2 linked regions of the Homo sapiens genome follow. The protein of the gene in region 1 purifies or fractionates together with the protein of each later gene. This does not show direct contact. Each region holds a gene or a part of one and is shown in the gene's direction. Other genes may lie near its edges.

What was found. Proteins that work in one complex are often made in the same cells at the same time.
Region 2: the proteins of ACTR2 (region 1) and ARPC1A purify together in Homo sapiens (affinity purification with mass spectrometry; 11 studies listed by BioGRID and IntAct, with this or other methods). This does not show direct contact.

Annotation. Positions count from the first base shown.
Region 1 is NC_000002.12:65,244,799-65,248,552, forward strand, and holds part of ACTR2 (actin-related protein 2), read left to right. Parts: intron 1-1,725; coding exon 1,726-1,941; intron 1,942-3,754. UniProt on the Homo sapiens protein: ATP-binding component of the Arp2/3 complex, a multiprotein complex that mediates actin polymerization upon stimulation by nucleation-promoting factor (NPF).
Region 2 is NC_000007.14:99,328,837-99,332,590, forward strand, and holds part of ARPC1A (actin-related protein 2/3 complex subunit 1A), read left to right. Parts: intron 1-3,754. UniProt on the Homo sapiens protein: Probably functions as a component of the Arp2/3 complex which is involved in regulation of actin polymerization and together with an activating nucleation-promoting factor (NPF) mediates the formation of branched actin networks.

The DNA of each region.
Region 1 (3,754 bases):
TTAGCTGGGCATGTAGCCTGTAGTCCCAGCTACTTGGGAGGCTAAGGTGGGAGGATCACCTGAGCCTGGGGAGGTTGAGGCTGTGGTAAGCAATAATGGCACCACTGCACTCCAGCTTGGGTGACAGAGTGAGACCCCATCTCAAAAAAAAAAAAAAAAAAGAGTGTAAACATTTAATATTTCAGATATTTGAGTAATAAGTTAGTAAGTTATGGTAAATGAACTTCATAAGAAATTGCAACAAATTTTTACTGAGCATTTCTAGCATCTGTTTTTAACTTTGTTATACTTTTTGATGCTTTTAGTGGATTTTCCAGAGATCTGTTTGGTTTTTTGTTAGAGTCCTCACCTTGGTTTCATCTCTGATATTTTCTTTTTCTTTTTTTTTTAATTTAAAACTCATATATTTTTAAGCCTTTGTTTTAAAACATCTCATGTTGGCCAGGTGTGGTGGCTCATGCCTGTAATCCCAACACTTTGGGAGGCCGAGATGGGTGAATTACTTGAGGTCAGGAGTTTGAGACCAGCTTGGCCAACATGGTGAAACCCCATCTCTACTAAAAATACAAAAATTAGCCAGGCGTGGTGGCAGGTGCCTGTAATCCCAGCTACTCAGGAGGCTGAGGCAGGAGAATCGCTTGAACCTGGGAGGCAGAGGTTGTAGTGAGCTGAGATCATGCCACTGCGCTCTAGCCTGGGCAGTAGAGCGAGACTCAGTCTCAAAAAAATAATCTCGTGTTAATTTTGCTGCTGCTTTTTTTTGTCTCTCCATAATTAAAACTTAACGTATTGTAGCAAATATCTACTTCTGATACTAGTTTTTTTAATTGAATTTATCAACATATGTAGAAATTAGTATTATTTAACCTCTTGACTAGCTGTTCTCTAAAAATAAGTCTAAATGCTAGGACATCCTTACTTATTATATATAGAAAATGTGACTTTCAAATGTGGGTCATCTTAAGTATGCTCTCATTGGAGACAAGACTTGTGAGTATTATGCTTCATGTGTGATGGTGTAGTTTTCCAGTATACTTTAAGATTGAAAATGTTGCTCAGGAGACAATTTTAAAGGATGGGTTATTTGCCTATATCTTAATTTTTTATAACTCTACAAATTCTCATTCACCTTGGTGAGGCATATGTAGAAACAGTTTAAATTCTTATTCAGGCATATGTAGATAGAAGTTTGTGCTATTTATTAGTTGGTGTATGTATGCATTATTATAGAGTAATAAAGAATCATTTTATTTTTTGCTTCTTTCATTATGCTTTATAGTACTTACATTTATCATTTTGATATTTAGTGCAAAGAAATGTGCTGCATGCATTGAGCATTTTTCTACAAGTTTTTTTCCCCCTGATGTGCTATTTCACATATCACAGGCCTTATTTTTTGAACAATTGAGCAAAAGAAACAGATGAAACCTCATACAAAACCCTCCAAAATATGAAAATGTGGGGTTTATTTGTGCTAATGCTCTTCTTTTGGAAACATTTGTGTTAAAGGTAAGGTCAATTTATTGATTTAAACCACATTGTATGTAAAAATGTATTATCCATGATTAAACTTTCTAAGACATTGTTCTTGATAGAAAAGATTTTCTAACTTGTGGAATAAAAAGATTTATTTTGCAAGTGTCAGAAATATTAAAATTAATTATTCCCAAGTTTTCTTAAATATTATGCAAAACTTTGATCTACAGCTTTGACATAATTTTCTAGGATCTTATGGTTGGTGATGAGGCAAGTGAATTACGATCAATGTTAGAAGTTAACTACCCTATGGAAAATGGCATAGTACGAAATTGGGATGACATGAAACACCTGTGGGACTACACATTTGGACCAGAGAAACTTAATATAGATACCAGAAATTGTAAAATCTTACTCACAGAACCTCCTATGAACCCAACCAAAAACAGAGAGAAGATTGTAGAGGTGAGTTTTTATGCAGGATATGCATATGTGTATTTCTGTGATATTATGTTAAATCAAAAATTTTCTTACTGTTGCTATGGATAAAGAGAATAAAAATAATTGTTTTCCTTCAGATCTTATTAAGTATCTACTATATGCTAGTCATTATTCTAAGTAGGAAAGTAGGATAGATCAGTAAACAAAAAATCCTACTGCCATGGAGTGTATATATTCTAACAGGGAAAAACAGACCAAAAAAATTAAGTTTTTAATTTAGTGAGTTAATTAAGTTAATTAAGTTTTTATGGAGGAGCCAGCAGAAGGAGACTGAAAAGGCTAATACAATAAGCAGTTACAGAGTTAATTAAATGGTTTGTTAGAAGGTGAGTGATCCAGTTGACCCATGAGCAATGCAGGGGTTAGGGGCACCAACCCTCCCTACTCACGTGCAAACTTAACTACCACCCAAAATACTTAACTTCTAATAGCCTACTGTTGACCAGAAGCCTTACTGATAACATAATATGTATTATATACTATATTCTTAACAATAAAGTAAGCTAGAGGAAATACTGTTAAGAAAATCATGGCCGGGCGCGGTGGCTCACGCCTGTAATCTCAGCACTTTGGGAGGCGGAGGCGGGCAGATCACAAGGTCAGGAGATCGAGACCATCCTGGCTAACACAGTGAAACTCCGTCTCTACTAAAAATACAAAAAATTAGCCGGGCGTGGTGGCGGGTGCCTGTAGTCCCAGCTACTCAGGAGGCTGAGGCAGGAGAATGACGTGAACCCTTGAGGCAGAGCTTGCAGTGAGTGGAGATCGTGCCACTGCACTCCAGCCTGGGCGACAGAGCGAGACTCCGTCTCAAAAAAAAATAAAAAATCATAAGAGAAAATACATTTACTATACCTTAAGTGGATGTAGATCATCATAAAGATCTTCATCGTCATTGTCTTCACACCGACGAAGAAGAGGAGGGGTTGGTCTTGCTGTCTCGGGTGGCAGAGACAGAAGAGGTGCAAGGGGAGGCAGGAAAGATTTATTGACAAAAATCGTGTATAAGTGGACCTGTGTGGTTCAAACTTGTTGTTATTCATGGATCAGCTGTAGATGCTAAAGGCAAAATAAATCAGGTTAACGGGGAGTGGGAGGTTGTAATTGTACATAGGTTGTGAGAAGGTGATGTTTAAACAGACAGGGTAAGTGAGTTAGCCAGGGTATATAGGAGAATGGTATTCCAGATAAAGGGAGTAGCCAGTGTAAAGGTCTTAAGTTAGGAACAAGCTTGGTATATTAAAGAATAAGCAAGGAAGCCAGTGTGGTTGAGGAGAGAGCAACAGAAGATGAGGTCGAGTAAGTAATATTGGTGCCTTGTAGGCTCTAATTAGGAATTGGGCGGCTGGAAGTGGTGGTTCAGGCCTGTAATCCCAGCACTTCTGGGAGGCCGAGGTGGGCGGATCACGAGGTCAAGAGTTCGAGACCAGCCTGACCAACATAGTGAAACGCCATCTCTACTAAAAATACAAAAATTAACTGGGCATAGTGGTGCGTGCCTGTAATCCCAGCTACTTGGGAGGCTGGGGCAGGAGAATCGCTTGAACCCAGGAGGCAGATGCTGCAGTGAGCCGAGATTACACCACTGCATTCCAGCCTGGGCGACAGGGTGAGACTCAGTCTCAAAAAGAAAAAAAGGGAATTGGGCTTTTACTGTGGGTGAAATATGGGGCTGTTACAGGAAAAGGAGATGCTCAGATTTAGATTTCTCTTGTGTTGTGAGTATCCCACAAGGAGGCAAAGATAGAAGAGTTGGAGACTTTTTCAGTCATTTAAG
Region 2 (3,754 bases), on another chromosome or scaffold:
GCTACTCAGGAGGCTAAAGTGGGAGGATGGCTTGACCCTGGGAAGCCGAGGTTGCAGTGAACTGAGATCACACCACTGCAGTCCAGCCTGGGTGACAGAGCAAGACCTTGTCTGAGAAAAAAACTCAGAGAGAGAGAAAAGGGATGAGGGGGGAGGGAGGGAGGAAAAGAAAAGGGATGAGGGGCAGGGCGCGGTGGCTCACGCCTGTAATCCCAGCACTTTGGGAGGCCGAGGCAGGCGGATCACGAGGTCAGGATATCGAGACCATCCTGGCTAACACGGTGAAACCCCATCTCTACTAAAAATACAAAAAAATTGGCCGGGTGTGGTGGCGGGCCCCTGTAGTCCCAGCTACTCGGGAGGCTGAGGCAGGAGAATGGCGTGAACCCGGGAGGCAGAGTTTGCAGTGAGCCGAGATCGTGCCACTGTACTCCAGCCTGGGCGACAGAGCGAGACTCCGTCTCAAAAAAAAAAAAAAGAAAATAAAGAAAAGGGATGAGGAGTTCCTGGCATTTTTATTTGTCCCCTTTTCTCCCTCTCTAGCTCTATTAAGACAAAGCTTTTCAGATTTCACTTAAACATTAACCATAGTTTAGAAATTATAATTATCACCCTATGACAGAAGGTACCCTTTCTTGGTACATAATTCAAGCTATTAGGAATTTCTTCTGCATTCACTGGGTTTCATGAATGCAAGTGGTGTTTGCTAGGTGCATTCTAAATTTGACAAACATGAGTGTTGTCTTGGCCTGCAGACTTAAAATAGCCACCTGATTATAAAAGAAGTACAGGTCTTAAGTGTATGTCCAAATATGGAACTTGAATGATATGGCAAAATTAGAAATGCAATTTTAGAAGTAATTACACTGTTGTGTAAATGGCCACCTCTTTTGAAGTCTTTGCTACATTGCTTATAAAACACTGAGTTGAACATGAGAAAGCCTTTTGTCTGCAGCTGTACTTTTCAACTGGACATGAACCATGTACTTTTATGGCACGTAGATATTCACATCAAATTTCTGATTTGCAGACCGATTTTATTTTTAGTTAACAAATAAGCTTATCAAATGTGGCTTTTGAACTAAAGCGCTTTTAATTAAGGAGTTATAACAGCATGTTATTTTGAGTAGCTGTTACTAAAATCTGTTGTGATGGAACAATTTGGAGTGAGCATCTGATATCAGAGATAAAGAGAGAAGCATGCAGTGAGCATCTGGAAGTTCTTGTAAAAAAAAAAAACAAATTAAACATTCTCATTTGAATGCATTTAAAATTTTTTTAAATTGCCAATTCCTAAGCTTTTTCTTTGTTAGTTGTAGTTTGCTTTCTCGACTGTATAAAAGAAAAAAGTAATGACTTAACTATCTTCACTCTTAGAATAGAATATGAAATGCTAGCATTTCTCTGCCAGTTCAAGGTATCAGATGTTTTTTATTTAAAGTTGCACTTACCTTTGGGTTCCCCCCCCCTTTTTGTTTGTTTGTTTGTTTTGTTTTGATACAGAGTCTCACTCTGTCACCTAGGCTGCAGTGCAGTGGCACCATCTTGGCTCACTGCAACCTCCGCCTCCCATGTTCAAGAGATTCTTGTGCCTCAGCCTCCTGAGTAGCTGGAATTACAGGTGCCTGCCACCATGCCCGTCTGATTTTTGTATTTTTAGTAGAGATAGGGTTTCGCCATGTTGGCCAGGCTGGTCTCGAACTCCCGACCTCAGGTGATCCGCCCACCTCGGCCTCCCAAAGTGCTGGGATTACAGGCTTGAGCCACCATGCCTGGCCTGGGTTCCTTTACAATTAGCAGAGGTGCTGCTTCTGCTTTCTGAGACTGATTTCTGCTTTGTCAGCTGAACTTTCATTGTTCACTTTACAACCTTCTAGTGGCCCTTCCATTCATTTCCTGCTTGCATCAGAATTCATATCTCACATTTCAGCCTCCACCCAAGGTTAACATGACACATACTTACGTGTGTTGAAACTTGAGTTTATTGTGAGGGTGCCTCCTGGAAATGATAAAGTTGGGGGTAGAGGAAGGCTGGCTGCTTTTTGAAAAATGTTCCCATTTCAGTTAATGGTTGCTTCTTCAAGTGTATCTAGATTTGGGTACCTATAAAATAGAGAATTTTTAATTTAATGTTTTGCAGATTCCTGCTTTTCATTTAGTTACAATTAAAAGTTTAAAAAGTATTATCACAAACGCCTACATACTCTTTGCCTAGATTCACCAGTTAGCATTTTGCCACATTCACATTCTATATATTTTCTGTCCTGAACTATTGAAAATAAGTTACAGTGGCTGGGCATGGTGACTCATGCCTGTAATCCCAGCACTTTGGGAGGCTGAGGCAGGTGGATCACTTGAGCCCAGTCAGAGCAGCCTGGGCAACATGGTGAAACCCCATCTCTACAAAAATTACCTGGGCTTGGTGGTGCATGCTTGTAGCCACAGCTACTCAGGAGGCTGAGGTGGGAGGATCACTTGAGGCCAGAAGACGGAGGCTGCAGTGAGCATAGATTGCACCACTGCCCTCCAAACCTGGGTGAGAGAGCAAGACCCTATCTCCCCTGCCCCCCACCCAAAAAAAGAAAAGAAGTTACAGAAGACATCATGATACTTCATCCCTGAACACTTCATCATTATCTTTGTCTCCTAAGAGCTAGGACATTCTCCTATCTAATGGCAATACCGTTATCACACCTAAGAAAATGAAAATAATTCCATATGTAATATCTAGTTTAAATTGTAATTTTCCCTGTTATACAAAATACATCTTTTCTGCCCATTTTTTAAAATGTGGATTATGGGCCAGGCACAGTGGCTCACACCTGTAATCTCAGCACTTTGGGAGGCTGAGGAGGGCGGGTCACTTGAGGCCAGGTGTTCAAGACCAGCCTGGCCAACATGGTGAAAGTCCATCTCTACTAAAAATACAAAAATTAGCTGGGCCTGGTGGTGCACACTTGTAATCCCAGCTACTCAGGAGGCTGAGGCAGGAGGATCACCTGAGTCCAGGAAGTGGAGGTTGCAGTGAGCTGAGATGGTGCCACTGTACTCCAGTCTGGGCAACAGAGTGAGACTCTGTCTCAAAAAAAAGAAATTATATTATAATCAACTTTCACTTATCAAATTTGGTTTTCATAGCTCTCTAGAACAGTTCTCATCCTGCCTCCATATTGCCTTTTTGGAATAGTCCAGGCCAGTTCTTCTATAGAATGGCACACACCCTGGCTTTAACTGTTTATTTCCTCCTTGTGTTGCTTGACTAGTTCCTTTATCCTTTATTTCTTGTAAACTGAAAATTAGATCTGAATCTTGATTGGATTTAGAGTAAATATGTTTGGCATAGAGACTTCATTGGTAGGTTGACCATATTCCCAGGTTTCTCCAGGATAGCCCTGTGACCTGTTGTGTTGGCATAATTATTATTTATTTTTGCTCTCAGAAGTGTTCTGGTTTGGATGGTACGTTAAGTCACTATTTATAAGTGACGATGTGTACTTCATGTGGACTGCCATCAGGAGGCCCATCCAGTTAGATTGATCCACTATTTATAACATGGTGATTACGTGGTGATTGCCAGATTTCTTCAACGTAAAGGCATCTTTTTCTCTTTGTAGTTAATAAGCAATCTGTGGGATGATAATTTGAGACTAGGAATATCCTGTACCCATGGTTTAAGAGTCCATTGACGACCCTGAACAGAATAAATTCCACATTAGTTGTTACAATGCTAGATTTATTCAGATGGTTAAGTTTT